Linked DNA regions of Homo sapiens. The protein of the gene in region 4 purifies or fractionates together with the protein of the main gene of each other region. This does not show direct contact. Each region holds a gene or a part of one and is shown on either strand. Other genes may lie near its edges.

Region 1 (3,500 bases), on a different chromosome or scaffold from region 4:
ATAGTGTTTCTGATTTAATAAATCTGGGATTAGGTCCAGGGATCAGTAACTAGTATAAGCCCACCAGGTGATTCTAATGTATAGCTGATTAAGAATGACCGCTGTAATCTTTCAGTTTCCTCTTCTGCAAAATGAAGATAGTAATAACATTTGAGAACTAAATGATATAATAAATGAAAAATTTAAGTTGTGCCTGGAAAATGGCAAGAGCTCCACTGCTTTTAAATAGTATTATCCTACGGTGCTTGTGAAGATTTTTTAAAAGGATTTTATTTTCTCATATTCAGTTGACAGAATTGGAATTAAAATTACTGTAATTCTTAATCATAGATCACCAGACCATGCAGTTTAGTCAAGGCTGTGCTGTTTTTTCTCCCAGAAATCTGGAAAATACTATCAGTTCACTATTTTTATCAGTATACCATTCTGCAAAGATGAAATGTGATTGCAAAAGTGCTGCCAAAGTAATTGAATGAAGAAAATTACATATTTGAATCTTCTACTTCAAAAATGAAAAACTGAAGTTTCCCGTTGGCTTTTAAAATGTTATGTCTGTCTAACAGGAAAAGACAATCAGCATCAAGGTTCTTACAGTGAGGGGGCTCAGATGAATGGCATTCAGCCAGAAGAAATTGGTAGATTGCGAGAAGAGATAGAAGAATTAAAACGTAATCAGGAACTTTTACAAAGCCAGCTGACTGAAAAGGACTCTATGATTGAAAATATGGTAAAGTAAATGTTTAAGAAGTTAAAATAAGAGTTCAAGAGTGGTTCTCATTATCCTGCCTTTTTTTTTTTTCCTTGGATCTCTTAAGCCAGAATATCATATGTTAAGATTTTACAGGATGGGCCAGGCACAGTGGCTTACGCCTGTAATCCTAGCACTTTGGGAGGCTGAGGTGGGCGGATCACCTGAGGTCAGGAGTTCAAGACTAGCCTGGCCAATATGGCGAAACCCTGTCTCTACTAAAAATACAAAAATTAGCCGGGCATGGTGGCAGGCACCTGTAGTCCCAGCTACGCAGGAGGCTGAGGCAGGAGAATCTCTTAAACCCAGGAGGTAGAGGTTGCAGTGAGCCGAGATCACCCCACTTCACCTCATTGCCTGTGCGACAGAGGGAGACTTTCCATCTAAAAAAAAAAAAAAAAAGATTTTACAGGATGAGCTTTAGAGTCAAACTGTTTAAACTTCAATGCTTCCTGGCTCATTGAATTTAAGCAATTTAGTTAACCTCTTTAAACTTGTTTCCTGATCTATAAAATGGTAGTGGTAATGTCTAGTTCATTGTTGTGAGATTTAATTTACTCTTCTAATAGATGGAAATTATTTAATAAATGTTTGCTTTTATGCTCTTTCTCCATATGAACGCAGGTAAATGCTTAGATTTAATAAATTGCTCGGTAAAATAAAAATTTTATTTTTTTTTCTTTAGAGACAGAGTCTCGCTCTGTTAGCCCAGTCTGGAGCGCAGTGGCACAATCTCGGCTCACTGCAACCTCCACCTCCCAGGTTCTAGCAGTTCTCCTGCCTCAGCCTCCCGAGTAGCTGGGATTATAGGTGCACGCTGCCACGTCCGGCTAATTTTTTGTATTTTAGTAGAGATAGGGTTTCACCGTGTTGCCCAAGCTGATCTTGCATTCCTGAGCTCAAGCAATCCACTGGCCTTGGCCTCCCAAGGATTACAGGCATGAGCCACCGCACCCAGCCTACAAATGGATTTTTAGCCATGAAAAAGTTGTAGACAATATGTGCTGTGTTGGAATTTTATCTTGGGCATAAAAATTAAAAGGTTGGTGTGAATTTTTTGGTAAGCACATATGATATAGTTTATATGTGTACAGTTCTGTTTTTTTTTCTCATCTCTTTAGACTGAATATATTTTATAGTTTATTTTTGTGCTATTTGCAGAAATCTTCCCAAACATCTGGCACAAATGAACAGTCTTCAGCAATAGTTTCAGCTAGAGATTCTGAACAAGTTGCAGAATTAAAACAGGTAATTTTCCACTTTGATCCAATTCTACTTTGTCATGTTTTAATTATAATAGAATAACAGCCCTATAGTTTCACAAATCTAGAACTATATTAGCAGATGTAAGTAAAATTTAAGTTAAGACAGCCATTTGAAAATCCAGAAGCTGTTTCTATTTATATGGTAATAGTACTTTGCTTTTTATTGTGTTTTTATTTTTCAGAGGTATTCCTTTTAAAAAATCTCAGCATCTCACCCATGTTATTTATAGATTATCAGTGAACTAACAAGGAAAAATTTAAATTTATAACTTGCAAATATGAAAATGTAAAATCTTATGCCTAATTTTAATATACTATGATAATTGCTTGACTAAATGTATGGGGTTTTTAAACTGTTTTGTCTAGAAAATATAGAATTTTAGAATTGGAAAAGAGAAGAAAGGTAAACTTACCTATATCTCAATTAAATGACTCCAGCTAAAAAGCAAAATAAACTTTTTCTGTGGTAATTTATAACATCTAGAAAAGCAAGTTAAACTTTTTTCTACTTGCTTATAGTATTTATAAATTCCTGTTAAACTAGATCATACAGATTTACCTTTATCCAATGAAAAAATTTAAATGTATTGTTCAAGAAAAGAATCAAAAGAGAGAAATGAACTCTGTATACTTACAATTAAATAATGTAGCAATTGGAAGAAAACTCTAGAGTATATTATCCCTAAACAGGTTCTGGGGTTGTTTTTCTTTCCTCCTCTCTTTTCTTCTCTCTCTTTTCTTCTTTCCCTCCTTTCTTTCTTATTATAAAAGAAATGCATACTTTTTTTTTTTTAATCCAAGCAATACTAAAAAATGACCATCCTCACTAACCTAGGACTAACTGTCTTCCTTCTCTCTCCACTAAGCAACTGGCCCTAGTCCACTGACATGGCTGCTTTGAAAGAGAAATGACTGAACATAGAGAAATTTTGTCTTATTTTGATAATGTCCATGTACCTCAGAGTAGATTCTAAATATCTGACCTCTTTTTAAAAAAAGAATCACTTATCATTTGAGGATTTTCAGGTCTCCAATATTTGTTCACAATGTTTTATTTGTGTGGGAAGATTAATATGCTCTTTTGGTTTTATTAAGTGTACCTATACTAGAACTGTATTAAAATTAAAGGGAATTAAGTTACTAATATATAGCCTTAGTTTGTAAATTCTAAGTAAAAATAAGCCATTTAATTATCTTTCCCAGTGAAACTTTAATTAGATATTTTTATAAAAAGAGAATTGCCTTTTAGTTTTTTTACTTTCTCCAGTTTATTTACTTTTATAAACTTTAGATTGTTAAAATATATGTATTTTTTAAGTGACAGTTTTGTTTTTTATAATATATAGTAAAGTACTATATATAGAAAACTGTAACTCATTTTAATAACTAAACAAAATAAATTAGAAAAGCCACAAATGTACATGATAGAAATTTTAAAGAGAACCAAAAGAAAAGAGCCTTTTACTTGCCATTGTCCCACCACTTAC
Region 2 (3,500 bases), on a different chromosome or scaffold from region 4:
GTGGTTGGGCTTGGGGCTGTGATCCTGGCCCGCTCCCGGGCGCAACTTCAGCTCCGTGCAGGGCTGCAGAGAGGTCAGCAGATGGACCCCGACCGAGCCTTCATCTGTGGAGAGAGCCGCCAGTTTGCCCAGTGCCTTATCTTTGGGTTTCTGTTCTTGACAAGCGGCATGCTCATCAGCGTCCTGGGCATTTGGGTCCCTGGATGTGGCTCCAACTGGGCGCAGGAACCGCTAAACGAGACAGACACTGGCGACTCAGAGCCCCGGATGTGTGGGTTCCTTTCTCTGCAGATCATGGGGCCCTTGATTGTGCTTGTGGGATTGTGTTTCTTCGTGGTTGCCCATGTTAAGAAGAGAAACACGCTGAATGCTGGCCAGGATGCCTCTGAGAGAGAAGAGGGACAGATCCAGATTATGGAGCCTGTCCAGGTCACTGTAGGTGGGTTGCTGTTATTTGCGTTCTTGCTTCTATCACAGTGGCTTTGCAGCAGGGTTTCACCAGCTGCTCTTGGTTCTCGTCTGGATTCTCTTTCTCAATTCTTCCATCTCTCACACATGTGTGTGCACACGCACACACCCCCATCATGTGTACATACACAATGGTGCTGCTGTGGGAAGCCCCGTAGGAACCTTGTATACATCTTTTCCCCCCCAGCAACTCTTTCCTACTTTGCAAAGCATTGGGATATTAAGTAGTGACCTTGACTGAGGTCACAGAGCAAATTAAGAGGAAAGTGAGAAGAACCATGAGGACAGCCTTGGAGCCTTCTGCCACCTTAGGGACTCACTAAGTGACCCTGTTACCCCTGTTATTCTCACACCAAAACCACATAGCATTTTAGTTGTGGGACACTTGGTTTCTCCTCCCAGGCTGTCACTAGCTGGCTGTCCTTGTAAGTCCTTAACCTCTCCTGCCTTGGTTTATGTCTCTATAAAATGAGCAGTGCCTCTCTAAGATTCCTGCAGCACTAACATTCTAGGATTCTGGATCTGTCTGAGTCCAGCAGTCTCCAGGTGTTTTGAGGGGCCTCTGCACTGTCTCTGTGTTGTCCTTCTTTTTTTGTGACATCATCCGTGGCTGCAGGGCTGAGGCAAAGCTTGGAAGCAGCGGGATGAACCAAGATGGAATATGACAGCACCTTTCTCCCGTGGAATGCCTACAAGTTCCTTTTGGGTCCCCCGGGTTCTACAGAAGAGATGGAGTGCCATTTCCCAGAGCCTGCCCCCTCAGAACAATAGCAGTAGCGTTGGCCTCAGCTTCACACAACCAAGGAAAAACCCCATCGCTGTTCATTGGCAGATCACTTTTTTTCAGTCTCCTACTTTTGAAAGAGTAAAGTTGTGAAACCACTGACATTTAAAAGGCTAGGAAAAGAGATCTTCAGAACAGAAACCATGGAGAGGACAGAGAGGGAATGTGACAAGTGAGATGCATCTCCTGTTTGGGGCTGTCTACTGGAAGCAGTGGAATTCACTGACTGCAGCCTGGAGGGGAGGAACTGGGTTGCTGGACTTGCATGGCACCAGCCTTGGAGAGGAGGGGCAGATGGATCTGCAGCCATTCCTTGTGTAGAGCCAGGGTAGATGCTCCCAGCTTATTTATTAATATATTTATGCATTAATATATTTATGGTGACAACACAAATATTAGTTATATATTCACAATAGCTAACACTTATATAGGGTCTATTTTTGTGCCAAACACCCATTTAAGTGCTTTATCATGTGCTCTTAAAGGTCCCCTGTGTGAAATTCATTCACACCTACAGCAATCCAAGGGGGCAGATAACGTTAGTACCTCCATGTTACACAGGAAGAAGATGAGGCATGTAGATATCAAGTGACTTGCCTAAGGTCACACCCTAGCAAGTGGTAGAGCAAGGTTCCAACCCAAGTGTCTGGGCACACCCACAGAATAGCCCTTGCATAGCACCCTGCCCAGGGCACGTGGGTGTGATTCCATTTTATCCTTCACCAAGTGTTCCTGGAAGTTATTACATGAAAAAAGGGGCTCCCTTTAATTTGATAGATGTTCTTAGTGTTCTTGAGGAACACCGTGGGGTACAAGTAAATATGTTCATCCAACGCTGCTATGCTTTCATCTAGTTGGGAACGGTTCGAGGGGAGTTTTGGGGCCCAGCCTTCCACCTGGTAGCTGGAATCAGAGTGGACAGAGCTGTGGTGCTGCTCCTGGTGTCCTTGTCCTGAAGTTGGCACTGCATGGTTTAAAATCTTTTCTACTTAACTCTTTAAGTCCCCATCAAACCTATGAAAATCTTGCATCCTAATTCCTCTCCTTTGATATTGTGGAATAGGGTTTACATTTTTAGAATCCAAGAAGCATGCTCTCCTTGTTGTGGGTACACTCAGTGCTATCCTGGATACACAGCAGGTATATGAGACAGCTCTCCTTGGAGGGGTGTATATGTTGTCTGCTCACAGAGGACATCAAGTTCTGAAAGACGCATGAAAGGGAACTCGCAGAGGAGAGGCCTCTTTCCAGGGAGAGCAGGTTGCAGGGTGTGGGCAGGCGGAGCTGCTGGGCCAAAGGGCTGGAGACCCTTGGAGGTAACAGGGTTACTGGAGCATATCCTTGTGTGTTTTTGAGAGGTGATTGGCCTGCCCTCAAGGGTTACTTCACAGGTTCTTTATTCTACAGTGTGTAATGGAAGTGAACACAACCCCAATTCCTCTAACCTACCAAGACCTTCTAAAAAAGTAAATGAGAATCTCAGGACCGCTATTATGCTTTCTCACCTTTAGATTAGCAAAACGTATTTTAAACTCTCATTGCCTTCTCCTTGGAGAAGGAAGGGGAGATGGAATTAATGCATTTTCTGAAGGGCTAAATTCCCTCTGGGAAATGATTGAGGCTGCTGTGGCTCATGAAGGGTAGAGAGTGGAGCCAGTGGCCAATTGCCTCTGTGGTGTTTCTTCATCATGCAAATCAGTGCCCTCGGCTGGTGTTGAGCTGAGAGAGTTGGCTCTGTGCTCCGCACTGTGTTCACTGCCAGATGCAAATCAGTCCATCTAGTCCTTCCTTCTATCTGTCCTGTGATGCAAGAACTGCCTGGCCTGCAGTTTACAGCTGTGGCGGCTGAGGTCAAGGAGGTCGCCTAGCTTGTTCAGGTTGGAACCCCCATCACTTTAAAGAATCCTATGCCACCCTAAGCAAGCATCAGACATGCTAGGAGTGTGAACCACTACAGGGAAGTAAAGCCCCATCTTCTTCATTTTTTCTGAACTGTTATTGCTATTGCCAGCTTCTCAGAGGCTTTCACCAGGCCCCCAGCAGTGGTGCTGCCAGAGCTCTACACTGTTCTGGTCCACTTGTGTGGTGCATTTTATATTGGAATCGGAATACAAATTAGAGTTTGCATCTGGTCCCTAGTTTCTCCTCAAAACATGAGGATGTATTCTGGAGTGAACAGTAGCCACAGAAATGCAAAAACCAAACTTCTTTGGGTTCAACCTTCATCTGTATGGGTGAAATTTTGGTA
Region 3 (2,831 bases), 6.1 Mb from region 4:
TGATTTTAGATTTAGATTTTAAATTTTAGAGATTTCAGTGACAGATAATTAGAATCAACTCAAAACTGTATTAACTATTTTCTATTCTTCAATTTTGATTACACTGTGTCAAGCATTGCATACATTTCTAAATATTGGGGGTTGGGAAAACTTTTCCATGGAAGTAAGTTTGTTTTCTAGATTTTTTTAGGTTAAAAGTCATATGGAATAAATTAAATCTGAGGCTGATCCATTTATCCATTTACTAGGACATGTAAAAGTATTAATAGATAAGCATGTAATCTATCATTCATATTGACATAATGTATAACATAAATACTGAGCATAAGATAAAAGGTTATCTTAGAATTCCATGCACATGTATTTGTGTCATTTAGTATTAGCATACTGGAATATTGTTGGAACAAGCTCCACTGTTGCTTTTGAATGTAAGGTCAAGCCCATTGTCTTAGAAAGCAGAACACAAAATATATTAACTGTGGAACTGCAGTTGGTAAGAATTCACTAGCATCAGAGTAACTGAGGATAAACACAAGCATACGCATAGAACACCGTTTTTTAAAAATGTATTTTGAATAGTTCCTCCTTCATAGACTTATTCTTACTGATTAGCTGTATCTCATAATTTTAAAAAATAGCAAATGTGTTTTATTTATTTAGTATGCACTTGTAAAGCTGTACTAGTCTTACAAGTTTTTTTCTTATGAGTTCAAGTAATTCTTGTACATGCATTAAATGAAAGCATGATCTTACAAAGAGATTTGTGTCACTGAATTTTTACTCAACCATGGATTTTTAAAAAATGTTTGATTGTTATTAAGGTAATAACTTCAATTCTCTATTTTTCTATACGCTTTTTGTCACGTCTTAATGGATGTTAAAGAGAAAAAAATTAGAAATTAAGTGTTTTAAAATAAATGATAAAGATGGCTGCTTATTTCTATTGTGGAAACACAACTTTGGATAAGTACTTAAATATATAACCCACTAAAGATAAGCACAGTTGGTTGAGAGTATGGATGGAAGAGGTCAAAACACACACCTGGATAGTTTGGCTCTGGTAGACTTTAATCACGTGAAAACTGAAACTGTAAATTCCTTTTCTTGGTGCTACAAAGACAGACTCCAATGTGAAAAAATTACCCACATTCACCAGGATCTACAAATAAAAATAATAAATAACAATAAGTTATTATATTTTCTTCTGTAACTAAAATGAATTTTCTTCCTCTCACTCTCTTCCTCTCCTCTTCCTTCTTTCCCTCCTTCCTTCATTCCTTCCTTCCTCTTTCTTTCTTTTCTTTTTTCTTTTGTTCATTCATTCATTCTTGGCAACTAGCTTAAGAAATCATAGAAAATAAAACATCTAGTTCTGTATCTTTCCTCTTAACTGATTTGGAAAATTGACTGGAATACTGGAAGGTTCTTCTGTCTTTTAAATGATATAAGAATAAATAAAGTAACTGCTTTGTATTCATGTCTCAATTTCCAGCAAGGCCCAATGGCTCTGGAAACATCGAGCTAACATTTGAGAACTTATAAATATTAGCTTTACCTTGAGAGTTGGATAAAAGGCACCCGCTATGTGTTTACATTCCCACCTTCTACAAGCCTTTGCAATGTCCAGAGGTGACGTTTCCAAGCCAGCCAATCAGCATCTGTGAGCTCTCCGCAGCATCCCTGGACAAACCACAGAGGCATGGGTACCCCCTCCACCATGTGACATAATCCTTGACACTGAACAGTTGGTGCACAAAGTGATCTGAATGCCTGGCCCTTCTCTGAGCCACCACCACCCCTCTCCTAAGATCTGTTACCATTTTTTTTTTCATTCCTGTGCCAGCTAGGCCTTAATTATAATAATGTGGCAATGAGTCAGCCCTTGTGGGCTGCCAAAGAGGAGAGCATAGAGAAGGCTAAACTATGAAATAGGTGGCTTTCCCTGTTCCTCCCCGGGCTGTCCATTAACCTCCTATCAATCACCTGCTCTTTATTTGAAGTTCAAGGTTCAAAAGTGAAATTAGATACTGTTTCCCAAGAAAGCAACAATGCATTTTGTATTCCAAAATATTCAGCCTAGTTCTATTGGTTATAAAATTAACTCTAAATTTTAATAAGTGACCTCTTAAGCTAAATTTGCAATGTCACATGGGTAAGTCTCTTTCTATGAGAAAGAGGGATTGGGATGGAGGATGGATGTTAAAATAACCAGGGTTTGTTCCATTTCTTTCCAAGAAATACACCTGTAAGTGGCATTCAAAAATAATAAGAGGTCCCTAAAAAGATATACTTCTCATATATCAATGGCAATCTGCTACTATCTCTTTCGAACACTGCATTCTTGCCAATATTAACACACTTGCAAGCCTCTTGCATAATTCCCTAAAAATGTACTATTACCTCTGGGCAACATACCAGAATGTAGTGACAGTCAAGCAGATGTATCAGGCTCAACACCTAACTTAAAACACATGTACGTGTATAATTTCATTCTGAGATTTCGCCTTCTTCCAAGTAAGCATCAGATTTTTTTTGTAACCTGATGATAGATGGTCTTTCAACAAGTCACCAGCTGTGCAATAATCCCCAGCAGAGGCTTTACAAAGAAATTTTTCAAGCACAATTAAAATAATTTGAGGTGCTTAGTGGTGACTTCCTGATTCAGATACAAGTAGCATAATTCATTAGCAATAATGAAAATAGCTGATTAGTGTTGGCTACATATAAAACTGGATGTTGACTCTACACTGTAATTGGAGCATCCAGGTACATCGAGATTTATAACCAAATGTGTGTTCTTGTCTCTAAGATGCAAGGCTCACTGAAAAGAA
Region 4 (3,500 bases):
AAATTCTACAGTGTTTGTCAAAGGGCAGAAAATGTTATGCAGCTTTCGAAATTAAATCACTTTTTTTTTCCTTGAGACAGGGTCCGGCTCTATCACCCAGGATGGAGTGCAGTGGCACGAACTCAGCTCACTGCAACCTCTGCCTCCTGGGCTCAAGCCATCCTCTCACCTCAGCCTCCCGAACAGTTGAGACTACGGGCACACACCACCATGCCCTGCTAGTTTTTTGTATTTTCAGTAGAGCCGAGGTTTCACCATGTTGTCCAGGCTGGTCTAGAACTCCTGGACTCAAGCAATCCACCCACCTTGGCCTCCCAAAGTGTTGGGATTACAGGCATGAACCACCTTGCCAGGCCTTAAGTTGAACGAATTTTGAAGTAATCTCTGGAATGAGGAACAAGCCTACATTATTGTGTACTTTTGTATGGTCTGCAATTTTAAAAATTTTAATGATTCTAAAATCAACAAGGCTGTGTATATCTCTTGGAAAATAAGACAACAGTATTTCTCCTTTCCAGTAGCAGTTATAACAGGTATGAAAATAAATATACTTGACTCTGATTATACAAGAGCATGGATGCATTTCAAATGTTAGCTATTGTTATTACAATCCAATGATTTCATATTGACTTTTTTTTAAGAGACAGGGTCTTGCTGTCAGCCAGGCTGGAGTGCAGTGGCATGATCATAGATCACTGTAATCCCAAACTCCTGGGCTCAAGTGATCCTCTGGCCTCTGCCTCCTGAGTAGCTGGGCCTACAGGTACATACCACCACACCCGGCTAATTTTATTTTTTTGTAAAGATGAGGTCTCACTATGTTGTCCAGGCTGGTCTCTTAACTCCTAGCCTCAAGCTCTTGCCTCGGACTCCCAAAGAGCTGGGGTTACAGGAATGAGCCACCGCGCCTGGCCATAATTGATCTTTTATAGGAAAAAACTGGGATAACTGATTTCTATGGCTTTCAAACCTAAAATATATACTTAACCAACTCTTAAAAAAAGAAACAAAAACCAGTAAGGTTATGAAAACAAACCAGCCCAGCCATCACCACAGGTAATTGGCATGCACGCGTGCTGTTAGTGACCTAGTCATGCTCTAACTTCAGCAACAACATGGCAGCTGTACGTTTTACCCCAACTTATCATGGAAAGACATGGACTCTTCCACATCACTTCCACATACATTCTTACGGCAGCCATGGCAAGAAGTCTCTGTGCTCTCGATCTGCCGCTCGAGCTCCACGGCTCGGACGCCAGGTGCCAGAGCGCTGCGACACACCCCACAGACAGGCTTCTTCGGCTTCAGACATTCCTGCAGGCATGCAGAGCAAAAGCTAGAACAAGACATACAGAGAACCTCTGTCACGCATCATGGAGACAAGACGACAAATATGGATCAACTTTTAAAAAGACATCAATGGATAATGGAGTAAAAAACAACTTGCTCTCTCCTCCCAGTTCAAATACTAAGTCCTTCCAAGCCAGAAAAAATGAGGGATAGGAGTGGACTACAAAGAACACACAACTACAGAAACAAATGCAAACTCCTGTGATAGACACAGTGAAGGTGTTAAGGTTGAGGCTTCAAGCCTTAGGCCCTGCCACTGAAGGATCTCAGTGGGGTTTCTTGAATCTCCATTTTTTCCTTTGTGAAATGGAGAGAGTAGTACCTACCTCTAGGACTGCTGGGAGGATACAGTTTGTATAGCAGACCCCTGGCAGAGTGTCCAGCCCTTACAAAACGCACCACAAACGGGAGCTGCTATCATTACAGGTGAAGGCAAAGCGCTACAGGAACATAAAGGGAAAATCAACTAGTGACCTGAGAAGGAAAGGGCTGGTAAGACTGCAGTGAAGGCTGGGAGCGGTGGCTCACGCCCGTAATCCCAGCACTTTGGGAGGCCAAGGCAGGCAGATCACGAGGTCAGGAGTTTGAGACCAGCCTTACCAACATGGTGAAACCCGTCTCTACTAAAAATACCAAAATTAGCCAGGCATGGTGGCAGATGCCTGTAATCCCAGCTACTCGGGAGGCTGAGGCAGGAGAATTGCTTGAACCTGGGAGGCAGAGGTGGCTGCACACTCCAGCCTGGGCAACAGAGTGCGACTCTGTCTCAAGGGGGGGGTGGAGGGGAAGACTGCAGAGACGGCATCTCTGATCAGCCTTAAAAGGGTTCAGCTCAGCCAGGCGCGGTGGCTCATGCCTGTAATCCCAGCACTTTGGGAGGCCGAGGCGGGCAGATCACAAGGTCAGGAGATCGAGACCATCCTGGCTAACACAGTGAAACCCCGTCTCTACTAAAAATACAAAAATTAGCTGGGAGTGGTGGCGGGTGCCTGTAGTCCCAGCTACTCGGGAGGCTTAGGCAGGAGAATGGCATGAACCCAGGACGCAGAGCTTGCAGTGAGCCAAGATCGCGCCACTGCACTCCATCCAGCCTGGGAGACAGAGCGAGACTCCGTCTCAAAAAAAAAAAAAAAAGGGTTCAGATGGATCCTTTTGTAGTTCATGAACCTGAGGACTGGGTGTTCATGTGCATGTGTGAGATGTGCCACCCTCGAACCTTGTTACAGATGTTGGCCCATTACCCCTCTGGCATTTTAAAAAAAGAGGTCAGCTAGCAGAGGAAGGGAAGACTATTCTAGGCCTAATTTAGGCTTAAAATTGATATGTATCTGAGGAAATAAAAATCTAACAGACTTTTCCTCATAAACAGTAGGGAGCCAGGAGTTTAAAAGGAAGGTATTAACAAAACAAGGCCAAATCCAGGTTTCAGAAAAATATCTCTGTGCTATCATGGAAAACAAAGTTTTGTTACTTTTTTTTTTTTTTTTTTTTTTGAGACAGAGTCGTGCTCTGTTGCCCAGGCTGAAGTGCAATGGTGCAATCTCGGCTCACTGCAAAATCTGCCTCCCCGGTCCAAGCGATTCTCCTGCTTCAGACTCCCAAGTGGCTGGGGTTACAGGCGCGCATGACCACACCCAGCTAATTTTATATTTTTAGTAGAGACGGGGTTTCACCACGTTAGCCAGGCTGGTCTCGAACTCCTGACCTCTGGTGATCCACCCGTCTTGGCCTCCCAAAGTGCTGGGATTACAGGTGTGAGCCACTGAGCCCAGCCCTATAGTTTTTTTTTTTTTTAGGTGAGAAGGTGAGAAGAGACAAAGTAGAAACCAAACAGATGGCTAAAGGCAGAGGATTGTGAGGGTCTGACTGAAGCAGCAGGGGATGAATTCAGGAAACCATTCACAGAAAGGTAGAATCAGGAGGACTTGATAACTTACTGACTTTGAAGAAAAGAAGTCAAAGATGACCGAGTTCCTATCCTGAAGCCTAGGAAGATGGTAATGCTGAGATAAGGCATACAGAAAGAATGGAGAAGACACCCTGGGCTACTTACCCAACCTGATAGATTAAGACAGTATAACCAAATCTGCCAGAAAGAACTAAAGATATATAATGAAAGGCCATCTTCTGAACACTTGACCATTTTCTAC
Region 5 (3,500 bases), on a different chromosome or scaffold from region 4:
ATATATTCCTTATAGTAGGCTTATTTCACCTTTTTTCTGTCCAGAGAGAGTATCAGTGAGAAAGATTTTAAGGGTGAAAACATGAATTGGTGGGACTTAGTAAAGAGCTGAAAAACTACTACAATGTGGGCTACGGTTATTATAAAATGATAGAGATGGAAACTAGAGTAAGTTTATTTTGTCTGTTAAACCTGGAAGTGAGCTAGGCATGGTCACTCACGCCTGTAATCCCAACACTTTGGGAGCCCAAGACAGGAGGATCCCTTGAGTCCAGGAGTTCAAGACCAGTCTGGGCAACACAGGGACACCCCATCTCGACCAAAAAAAAAAAAAAAAGCCAGGCATGGTGGTGCACTTCTGTGGTCCCAGCCACTTGAGAGGCTGAGGTGGGAGGATCACTTGGCCCCAGGAGGTTGAGGCTGCAGTGAGTCGTCATTGTGCCACTGCACTCCAGCCTGGGGGACACAGTGAGACCCTGTCTCAAAACAACAACAACAAAAACAAAGCAAAACAAAACAAAAAACACTTGGAAGTGGGGTATACTCAAAAATATAAAATTATCTAGAGAAAAACAATGCTCAGAAATATATAGCATTACTGTGGCAGGGCAAGTGCACCCAATATGGCAGTTTACAAGGAGCAGAAAGCAAAGGCTCAAGTGAGGGGCCTGGTCAGAGTTCAGGCTCCAAGTGTTCTAGAATAAGAAACTCAAGTCAGGCACCGTGGCACATGCCTATAATCCCATCTACTCGAGAGGCCAAGGTTGGGGGATGGCTTGAGCCCAGGAGTTCAAGTCCAGTCTTGATGTCTTCCCTTGAGAGACAGGGCAATATAGTAAGGACTTGTCTCTTAAGGGAAAAAGCAATGAAAGAAAGAAGCTCAGTTTTCCAAATTAGTAGCAAGGACTCCAGAAATGGCTTCCTTACTCCTGCCTCTGCCAAAGATTTAGGAGGCAAATATCCCTCTGCTGGCTTACTAGCAACCTGAGTCAGGCAAACAATTTTATGAAACACTGCTACAGTTTAGTTTGTTTGACCTCCTCCAAATCTCATGTTGAAATTTGATCCTCAGTGTTGGAGGTGAAGCCTAACGGGAGGGGTCTGGGTCATGGGGGCAGATTCCCCCATGAATGGCTTGGTGCTGTTCTCATGGGAGTGACTCACTCTTAGTTCCTGAAGAACTGCTTGTTAAAAAGAGCCTGGCACCTCCCCGACACCTCTCTCTCTCACTTCCTCTCTGTCATTTGATTTCTGCACACACTGGCTGCCCTTTGCTATGAATGGAAGCAGCCTGAGGCTTTCACCGGATGCCCAACCTTCTAGCCAGCAAAATTGTGAGCCAAACAAACCTTTTTCTTTATCAATTACCCAGTCTCAGGTGTTCTTTTATAGCAACACAAACAGACTAAGACAGGCACCAACTATATACTAGGCTCTTGGTCATTAAAAATGATAGTCTTGTGTGGGTGTGGTGGCTCATGCCTGTAATTCCAGCACTTTGGGAGGCCAAGGCAGGAGGATCATTTGAGCTCAGGAGTTTGAAACCAGCCTGGCCAACATGGCAAAACCCCGTCTCTACTAAAAATACAAAAAATTAGCCGGGTGTGGAGGCACACACCTGTAATCCCAGCTACTCAGGAGGCTGAGGCAGGAGAATCGCTTGAACCCGGGAAGTGGAGGTTGCAGTGAGCCAAGATCACACCACTGCATTCCAGCCTGGGTGACAGAGTGAGACTCCATCTCAAATAATAATAATAATAGTCTTATTCCATTTATTACCAATGCTTGCCCAATCTCTACTCATGGCCACTTTTCTTACCATGAGTAAGAAAGCAGAATGTGGGTCTTTAATTTTTCACAACCAACCCTTTTTCCTCCCATTTACAATAGAATTTCACTTTCACAGGTAGAGATGAAGGGGAAAACACACAAAAAACCAAAGAACCACCCCAGAGATGGCAATGAAAAAGAGATCAATTGGCAGCCGAGAGTCCAACTGAAGGACACAGAAGATTATTTCGGACCCACCTCTAACCCCAGTGATGACACAAGAGGGATGACACCTTTGCAGCAGATTTTACACAGATTTGGGGGGCTTTTGTCTTCCATAAAAAGTATCACTCCAGGGCTGGGCGCGGTGGCTCACGCCTATAATCCCAACACTTTGGAAGGCTGAGGCGGGCGGATCACGAGGTCAGGAGATCGAGACCATCCTGGCTAACACAGTGAAACCCTGTCTCTACTAAAAATACAAAAACAAAAATTAGCCGGGCATGGTGGTGGGCGCCTGTAGTCCCAGCTACTCGGGAGGCTGAGGTAGGAGAATGGCATGAACCTGGGAGGCGGAGCTTGCAGTGAGCCGAGATCATGCCACTGCACTCCAGCGCGAGCGACAGAGCAGACTCCGTCTCAAAAAAAAAAGTATCACTCCAGAAATGACAGACTAGCAGATTGTTATTCTTATACAAACCATTTCTTGAGAAGAAAAATTTCAAAGTCCTTTCTACATAAGGATTTAGACTGGCATTAAATCAGCCTCCTAAAATATATTTTTTTGAAAGCTTGATTTAAGACATCTTCCAGCAGTTGTCTTACTCAATTCCTTTGGCTTTCAGCTCCTCTTTGACACGTTTCAGGTAAGAAGGATCAGGATAGCCATACCTGAAGAAACAAAAATTCCTTTAGTGTCACCACAAATTGTTCGGATATGTGCAATAGATATCCAGCATTTAAGGATTTAATTAATATCCAGTGTTGCAAACATTCACAAGTAATCCTGAAGGTGGATGACGTATCATGACTTTTAAATTCGCAGATGCGAGTCATTTCGCTAGCGAGTGAGCCTAGCTGTCTGGCCAGCATCTGCCTTTCAAGCTGGCTTCTACCCTGCCAACTACAAAGTATTAATATGATGTATTTATTACATTTCGCATCAAAGGGCAGGGGGTTTGAGAATCCAAGATGAATAGTAATACGTTGATTTACTTTGAGGCTTCATGTCTATGTTAATTCTTAAAATTTTTCAGTTTATGGTAAGTAGTGACTCTCCTAAAAATATAATAATATACTGTGTTTTAGGGGGGCATCGTAATCACATGCTAGTAGGATTTTCAAATTTAAGGTTTTGGAAAAGTCTCAGGGTATATATTTTTTCTTTAGTGCCAAGGGTCTGAGGAATCCTATTTGGGTTTCATAAAGAACAATTGGATTTCGTATAATACAGTTTCTACCAATAGTCTCCTCACAACTTAGACTTTTTCTAGAATATTATTGGCCAAGTGATTTCAGGTTCTCTGTGGACTGGTGGGGGAAGGGGTGAAAAAGAAAGGTGACCTTAAAAGGAAGCAAAGTGACATTCCGAGCATCTAGCCTTCAGATAGACACAACGCCTCAAATTAAATCAGCTTATATAGTATTCATCTCGGATTCAAAAGCCCCCTGTCCTTTGGTGCAAAATTTAAATAACTCCATAGTACTTTATAGCTGGCAGGGTAGAAGTTG
Region 6 (3,500 bases), on a different chromosome or scaffold from region 4:
CCTACCAGACCCTGGATAAACAGACATCCTGCGGCTACCTGCCAGCTGCAGTCCCCTCGAAAATGTCACAGATCCTTGCCGGGCGCGGTGGCTCACGCCTATAATCCCAGCACTTTGGGAGGCAGAGGCAGGCGGATCGCCTGAGGTTGGGAGTTCGAGACCACCCTGACCAACATGGAGAAACCCCGTCTCTACTAAAAATACAAAATTAGCTGGGTGTAGTGGCCTGTAATCCCAGCTGCTCGGGAGGCTGAGGTGGGAGAATCGCTTGAACCCAGGAGGCGGAGGTTGTGGTGAGCAGGAGATGGCGCCATTGCACTCCAGCCTGGGCAACAAGAGCGAAACTCCGTCTCAAAAAAAGAAAGAAAATGTCGCAGATCCAAAGCAGCCACCATCTAAGTGCCTAGGCCCCACAGGCCTGCTAGCTCCTTGGCTGAAATGGGGCATCCAGCTGCACTTGTAGACTGGGACCTCATCTGGGCACCAGACACCAGCCTGGGTATACACAGGTCTAGCCTGGAGCAATAACTGGGGCAAAGGGGCAGTCAGCCTGGCTGGGGGTCCTGGTGTCAGTCCACCAGACTCTCCTGATCTGGGCAGGGGCCCCGATGCCTGGACGCCCCAACAGACCAGGCCCTCTGAGGCCTCGGCCTCCTCACCTGCCCACCCAGAACTCAGACAGGATCACAGTCACAGTGACTTTGAGTAGTCACGGCCTGTGTTGGCCCCTACAGCACTGTCAACATTGCTTAATTTGTTGCTAACATTTTCAAACTGGGAAATTTTACATAAGAAGTAGAATTCTCAGCCTCTCTAGAAAAATCAGGCCCTCTGGCCACACTGGAGCCATCCTCAATTGGAGATGGACAGTGGCTGCCCATCGGGGGCCTGGACCCTCCTGGGCAGTCCCAGGTACCCCAACAACTGTCATGCAGAACTGAGATAAAAGTCAATCCAGAGATTCCTCCTGCTTAAAATCTTCAGGGACGGCTGGGCACGGTGGCTTATGCCCGTAATCCCAGCACTTTGGGAGGCCGAGGTGGGCGGATCACGAAGTCAGGAGATTGAGACCATGGTGAAACCCCGTCTCTACTAAAAATACAAAATTAGCCGGGCGCAGTGGTGGTCGCCTGTAGTCCCAGCTACTCGGGAGGCTGAGGCAGGAGAATGGCGTGAACCCGGGAGGCGGAGCTTGCAGTAAGCTGAGATCACACCACTACACTCCAGCCTGGGTGACAGAGCGAAACTCCGTCTCAAAAAAAAAAAAAAAAAAAAAAATCTGCAGGGACATCTTGTCTGGGAGGCAACAGGGAGGGCCGAGGACTGGGGTCAATGAGTACAACTGCCTTTTTAAGGGTGGGGTGGCTGTGGCCTGCCACTCCAGGAAGCCATCACTAATATTCTGCCACAGTGACCCCTGCCCAGTCTCTGAGGGCATCAGAATTTGGACTCCCTGGGCAAAGCACTGCCAAGGCCCTAAAACCTGGAATGGCAGATCCTGCTTTGAGCCAACACAACGCGTGGAAAGCCAGCTGAGCACCAGGCCCATTCAGGCAGCCATCCAAAGTGCCTGCTGCTGAATGGCTAATGAGAAGAGCTGGGAGGACCTCTGGGGAGCCTGGCCCACCCCAGTCCCAAAGTCTGTACCCCTCACCCAAAGGGACAGTCCATTGGCATGGAGGAAAGGTGAAAAAATGTTCTCTGGCCTCTGACCTCCCAATCCTCCTCAGTTTAATCCTCTGCCTCCCCAAACCCTCCCCACTTCAGGCCTCAGCTCAAGTCCCAGTGTCCCCAGCACTGCCCTCTATACAGCTCCCAGGTCCTCAGGGGCAAGGCCAAAGCCCAGCCAAGCCTAGAACCCTCCCATCCTACTCTCAGATGAGCCAGACACTCATCCCTTCTCCCCATCATGGGGGCACTTCCAAGAGAAGGGTGCAGGATCTCCTTAGGTCTCCCCTCGGACAGCAGCTGAGCCAGGCCAGGCCACCAACAAATGAGGCGGGTGGCACCAGCCACAAGGGGCAGTGCTGGATTCACTTATCCCCTGCCCCTCTGCCCAGCCCAGCTCGGCATCCTGGCCAGGCCCATCTGAATATCCATGCAGCCTCTGGGAGGTGGCAGGACCCCAGGACAGGGCTCTATTTGCTGACCCCAGCTTCGGCTTCCTGCTCTGCATAACAGAGGTGACAATTGCGCCCACCTCTGATGCTGCCCTGTGAGGCTCTCCTTTGTCAGGATGGCCTCACACCCATTTCCAGAGTGGGAAATTGAGGTCCCGGCAGGCCAGGGGCCAACATCCTCCTTCCCCCACCCACAGAGGCAGCAGAGTCCACCCCCAAGCCTATACCCTGGCCTGTGAGGGGCACTCACCGTCCTCAATCACAACCTTGATGAGCCGCACAGAGCCAGCCCGTGCCTTGGCAAAGAATTCCTTCAGCTCTTCCGTGGCTATAAGAACAAGAAACATGGTGGGGGATGAGTGGGCAGAGTGGACAGAGACGAGTATGGGGCCTGCTCTGTCCCACAGGGTCTGGTGGCTGAGCTGGGAACCAGGTTAAATACAGCCCCCCATGTGACTGGGAACCTGAGACAGCCACTGAACACAAGCTCCCAAATTTAGCCAGCAGAGGTGGCAGGCGAGTGGCCTGCTGGCTGGGATAGGTCTGGTGATGGGGCGGGGTGGGCAGGGATGGGACAACCCACCAGAAGATGGGCAGGCTCTGGCATAAGCCAGGCCAGCCACAGTGAATAGCCTCCATCTGCCCCCTGCCCCGCAGGATGGCCGAGCTCTGGGCTGGCCTGGACACACTCAGCACAGTCATATACACAGAAAAAAGAACACAGACAAATGCCCCCACTGTGCAATGACCACTATGCCCATTCACACACACACACACACACACACAGCTCAATCCAGCATGTGTGAATGTAACACACAACACGCATGTGTGACAGAGGAGCAGAAATTCAAACACCCTCATACATGAACACATGCTCAGTTGCTCAAACACAAATGGACACGCATGTTTAGATACACAAACACACACAGAGATATAGTCCCCGGCTTGCTAACACGCACACAGGCAGGCAAGTGCAGAGCTTGGCTGAGACGTGTGTGCAGGCAACAGGATGTATCAAAGTGTACACAGAAGCACATGGACACGCATGACACCCATGTGTGCAGCCCCAGTCCCAGCCCTCCAGCCAGGCTGTCTAACCCTGAGACCCCGAGGAGCCACAGCCAGCCCAGATACAGCCCTGTGGGGGGTGGGGGGACAACATGACCTTAACCCTCAGGCAGTTGGGGCAGCTTCCAGGAGAAGGAATGGCTCCCCGAAACTCACTAAGAGACTCCATCTTGGTCAGGTGCGGTGGCTCTCACCTGTAATCCCAGCAATTTGGGAGGCCAAGGCGGGCAGATCACCTGAGGTCAGGAGTTCAAGACCAGCCTGGCCAACATGGCAAAACCCCATCTCTACTAAAAATACAAAAATTAGCCA
Region 7 (4,126 bases), on a different chromosome or scaffold from region 4:
CCTGGGTGCTGAGCACCATTTACGACAGCCAAGATATGAGATCAACCTGTGTCCGTGGAGGTTTGAAGGGTTGAAAACATGAGGGTTAGATACACAGTGGCATACCATTCCACCACAAAAGAAGAATGAAATCGGGCCGGGTGCGGTGGCTCACGCCTGTAATCTCAGCACTTTGGGAGGCTGAAGTGGGCGGATCACGAGGTCAGAAGATCGAGACCACCCTGGCTAACATGGTGAAACCCCGTCTCTACTAAAAATACAAAAAAATTAGCTGGGCGTGGTGGCAGGTGCCTGTAGTCCAAGCTACTCGGGAGGCTGAGGCAGGAGAATGGCATGAACCCAGGAGGCAGAGCTGGCAGTGACCTGAGATTGCACCACTGCACTCCAGCCTGGGCAATGGAGCAAGACTCTGTCTCAAAAAAAAAAAAAAAAAGAAGAATGAAATCCTGTCATTTGTAGCAACATGGATGGAACTGGAGGCCATTGTGTTAAGTGGAACAAACCTGGCACAGAAAAACAAGTATCACATGTTCTCACTGCTATGTGGGCTCTAAAGAAGTTGATCTCATGGAGGCAGAAAACACAATGCTAGACACCAGAGGCTGCGAAGGGCAGTGGGGAGGGATGACGAGAGGGTGGTTAATAAGTATAAACATACCGCGATAGAGAAGGAATAATATCAGCTGTTCAATAGCACAGTAGGGTGACTGTAGTTAACAACAGTGTATTATATGTTTCAATGTGGCTAGAACAGAGGATTTGGAATGTTCCCAACACAAAGATATGATGAATGTTTGAGGTGATGGATATCCCAAAATGCCCTATTTGATCATTATGCATGACATGGTGGTATCAAACTATCACATGTACCCCATTAATATGCATAATTATTATGTGTTTATAAAAAAGACACAAAAATGAAAATTAAAAAATAATAAAATGGCTTAAGATGGTCAAAGAAAACCAGAGCTGGACAGGAGTTAAAGCAGGAAAGTCTGACTTTACTGAGAACCATTTCAATAGGGGAAAGAGACCTCCATGGAGAACCAGCCTAACTGCACACAACACCCAAGGAGCAGGCTGGGGCCTATGGATTAAAAGTTACTAAGAGAAAACATCAGTGGGAAGGGGGTTCTGGCTACACCGACCTAACAAGACCTGCTGAAGACAGGCCTGCGTGATCAGACGTCACCTGGGAGGGACGGGGTTGAGGAATTTAATCAGATGCCAAGGTCAGGGTTCTCGCTAAAACAACCTGGTAGAATTCTTGCTGAAACAGGATCTTACGAGGAAGAGCACGGATGCCTAGGAGAAGGTGCAGGAGCCTGACAAGGGCTTGACCAAGCAAAGACGTCATCCAGGTGCTGCTCCCCGAGCCTTCTAAAGACGGCACAGCAAGCACACAGGTGACCCAGTGGTCGCCTCCTAGCCGGAAAGGCCTAGACTCTCTTCTTAGGTTGCCGTCGGGTGGGAAAAATGGGAAAACCCTGGGAACTGGACAGAGAAAATGGGCGGGGGCTACCTTTCTCAATGTTTTCGTTCAGATGGCAATTCCTCTTGGTGTCGGCACCAATAACCTTATCATTCTCATCCACAACAATCAGCATTTCCTCCAAGCGCTGCAACTGACGCCTGTCAACCCAGTCAAGATTTATGTCAGACATAGCTGCTGGCTGTGACCCGACCTGAAATAGATGCACACAAATGCCTCTTTATGTGAAAGATATTGCCATCTCGTTTTTGCTATGTGTTACCAACCACATTAGGATTTAGCATACACCTTCTCTACAAGTGACAGCAATTGTGTTGAAGCAGCACAGTTCTGAGATATGGAAGGTGAATCATCTGTTTCTAATGTGGTGTCTCTCTGAACGGGAAATCTTGGGTACATACATACTCCTCATGTTTTCCAGGTTTCCTTTAGTGACGAGTTAAAGAATCCCCGCCCCACCACACACACACACACACACACACACACACACACACACACACAAAACACACCGAGGTAAACTGTAGGTAACACTCTTTGTACAAGTTTTTGGGGAAAAGTGCAGCCCTGTGCAAAACCACTGGACCTGGATCAGACGTGGAGAAACACACAGCCTTGTAGGAAAGCTACGTCACCCACAGAAGGGCTATGGTCCTCTTCAGAGCCAAGCAGATTCTTAGGTGAAGATCTTCTCACAAAATGTTTTCAGGGCCAGGAGCGGTGGCTCACGTCTGTAATCCCAGTACTTTGGGAGGCCGAGGTGGGAGGATCACTTGAGGTCAAGAGTTTGAGACCAGCCTGGCCAACATGGTGGAACCCTCTCTCTACTAAAAAATACAAAAATTAGCCAGGCCTGGTGGCACATGCCTGTATTCCCAGCTACTCAGGAGGCTGAGGCAGGAGAATCACTTGAACCTGGGAAGCAGAGGTTGCAGTGAGCCGAGATCGTGCCATTGCTCTCCAGCCTGGGCAGACAGAGTGAGACTCTGTCTCAAAAAAAAAAAAAAAAAATGTTTTCAGGGTCATTTATCTTCATGTAAAACCTTCTCATCATCCTTTTCTACTTTTTAAAAAAATGCATTCACGTCTGTCCATTATCATTACTGTTAATATTTTCAGCAATCTGCTCCTCCTCTTTGCAAAAGGCTGTTTGACTTAATGCATGGACATGAGATACAATAGAAATGCAGAGAAAACAATTACTGAATATGTACAAATTTAGATCATAAAAGAAAGAATTCCCACAAGGTAAAACATATGCACTAACCTCTCTTGGAAGCTGGAGACTCCTGGGTATCAGATGTGGAACTCAATGTGCAAGTTGAACCAGGGCCCTTTTATACCCTGGGGATGTAGAAAGATATCAGCTAAGGCAATCTGATATTTTTGTATTCTTAACAAGAAAACACACCCCGGTCTCTCTCTATCTCTCCATCTCTTTCTCTCTATCTTTCTCCCTCTCAATTGAGGGATAATAGAAAATTGTTTTGACACAATCTCACTTTAAAAAATGCTTTTAGTTTTTAAACCTAGGGTAAGTTATTTTCTACTCTATGGCTTTCTTTTTTTTTTTTTTTTTAAGGTGATGTCTAGCTCTGTTGCCCAGGCCAGAGTGCAGTGGCGTGATCTCGGCTGACTGCAACCTCTGCCTCCCGGGTTCGGGCGATTCTCCTGCCTCAGCATCCCGAGTAGCTGAGATTACAGGCGCCCGCCATCACGCCCAGCTAATTTTTTTGTATTTTTAGTAGAGACGAGGTTTCACCATGTTGGCCAGGCTGGTCTCCATCTCCTGACCTCAGGTGATCCGCCCGCCTCGGCCTCCCAAAGTGCTGGGATTACAGGTGTGAGCCACGGCGCCGTTCGATGGCATCTTTTTAATTCACTTGCTGTATATATCATCCCAGATTTTAAAAAGAAAAAATAAAGGTGGCAAATGGAAGAGAAAAATAATAAACATTGTGACTAAAATTACTGAATAAATTCTTAGGATAGCTGAAAATCGATAAATAAATGCAAGACCTTGGAAACCAATGTGTTTGGAAGAGCTAAAAAACTGTATAATTTCTTGCCTATCATATTCCAAATATCATCTACCAACTAAAGCTCTAGGCCAAATAGTTTTGCAAGTAGGGTCTCTTAAAATATCAAAAAAATGTTTGCCATATCTGTCGGTTCTCTCAGGGAATATGAGGAGAGAAGCACGATGGACGCATGACTCCGCTGACTTTGGCACGGATAATACAGAACAAAAATAACACAGCAGCAGTGATGGGTAATATTCTATAAAAAGATTAATGTGTTTTGCTCTTTTGTCTTTCCATAAGTTCACCTTTATGCATGTAATTTTTAGTTACGTAGAAAATCAAAAGGCTATGCCTGAAATGTTTTCCCTGGAAATCAGTTCTGAGACTCAGGAATAAATGGTCTGTTTGAAACTTGTTTCTTTTGCAGTCAGAAGAGTAAGAATGGGAGAATGATACTCTTTTAAAGATCTAAAAAATAATAAATAAGTCTATGAATTAGGCTTTGAGGAAGAAACTAATATACAATACCGTACCTATTATAATCCAACAACTCTAATAGTAATAATAATAATAGTAAGACAGCCAGACACACATTGTGTCCTTCCTTTGTGCC

The links.
Region 1: the proteins of RNF114 (region 4) and USO1 purify together in Homo sapiens (affinity purification with mass spectrometry; 2 studies listed by BioGRID and IntAct, with this or other methods). This does not show direct contact.
Region 2: the proteins of RNF114 (region 4) and TMEM171 purify together in Homo sapiens (co-immunoprecipitation; one large-scale study listed by IntAct). This does not show direct contact.
Region 3: the proteins of RNF114 (region 4) and CBLN4 purify together in Homo sapiens (co-immunoprecipitation; one large-scale study listed by IntAct). This does not show direct contact.
Region 5: the proteins of RNF114 (region 4) and DTX3L purify together in Homo sapiens (affinity purification with mass spectrometry, with the first as the bait; one large-scale study listed by BioGRID). This does not show direct contact.
Region 6: the proteins of RNF114 (region 4) and TWF2 purify together in Homo sapiens (co-immunoprecipitation; one large-scale study listed by IntAct). This does not show direct contact.
Region 7: the proteins of RNF114 (region 4) and IDI2 purify together in Homo sapiens (affinity purification with mass spectrometry; 3 studies listed by BioGRID and IntAct, with this or other methods). This does not show direct contact.

Annotation. Positions count from the first base shown.
Region 1 is NC_000004.12:75,804,577-75,808,076, forward strand, and holds part of USO1 (general vesicular transport factor p115), read left to right. Parts: intron 1-563; coding exon 564-727; intron 728-1,909; coding exon 1,910-1,996; intron 1,997-3,500. UniProt on the Homo sapiens protein: General vesicular transport factor required for intercisternal transport in the Golgi stack; it is required for transcytotic fusion and/or subsequent binding of the vesicles to the target membrane.
Region 2 is NC_000005.10:73,123,575-73,127,074, forward strand, and holds part of TMEM171 (transmembrane protein 171), read left to right. Parts: coding exon 1-439; intron 440-3,500.
Region 3 is NC_000020.11:55,999,689-56,002,519, forward strand, and holds part of CBLN4 (cerebellin-4 precursor), read right to left. Parts: intron 1,160-2,831; coding exon 1,043-1,159; intron 1-1,042. UniProt on the Homo sapiens protein: Acts as a synaptic organizer in specific subsets of neurons in the brain. Essential for the formation and maintenance of inhibitory GABAergic synapses.
Region 4 is NC_000020.11:49,939,397-49,942,896, reverse strand, and holds part of RNF114 (E3 ubiquitin-protein ligase RNF114), read right to left. Parts: intron 2,602-3,500; exon of another isoform or gene 2,497-2,601; intron 1,337-2,496; coding exon 1,186-1,336; intron 1-1,185. UniProt on the Homo sapiens protein: E3 ubiquitin-protein ligase that promotes the ubiquitination of various substrates. In turn, participates in the regulation of many biological processes including cell cycle, apoptosis, osteoclastogenesis as well as innate or adaptive immunity.
Region 5 is NC_000003.12:122,570,838-122,574,337, reverse strand, and holds part of DTX3L (E3 ubiquitin-protein ligase DTX3L), read right to left. Parts: intron 2,661-3,500; coding exon 2,591-2,660; 3' UTR 1-2,590.
Region 6 is NC_000003.12:52,232,659-52,236,158, forward strand, and holds part of TWF2 (twinfilin-2), read right to left. Parts: intron 2,449-3,500; coding exon 2,371-2,448; intron 1-2,370. UniProt on the Homo sapiens protein: Actin-binding protein involved in motile and morphological processes. Inhibits actin polymerization, likely by sequestering G-actin. By capping the barbed ends of filaments, it also regulates motility.
Region 7 is NC_000010.11:1,023,060-1,027,185, forward strand, and holds the start of IDI2 (isopentenyl-diphosphate delta-isomerase 2), read right to left. Parts: upstream 2,801-4,126; 5' UTR 2,757-2,800; intron 1,686-2,756; 5' UTR 1,665-1,685; coding exon 1,523-1,664; intron 1-1,522. UniProt on the Homo sapiens protein: Catalyzes the 1,3-allylic rearrangement of the homoallylic substrate isopentenyl (IPP) to its highly electrophilic allylic isomer, dimethylallyl diphosphate (DMAPP).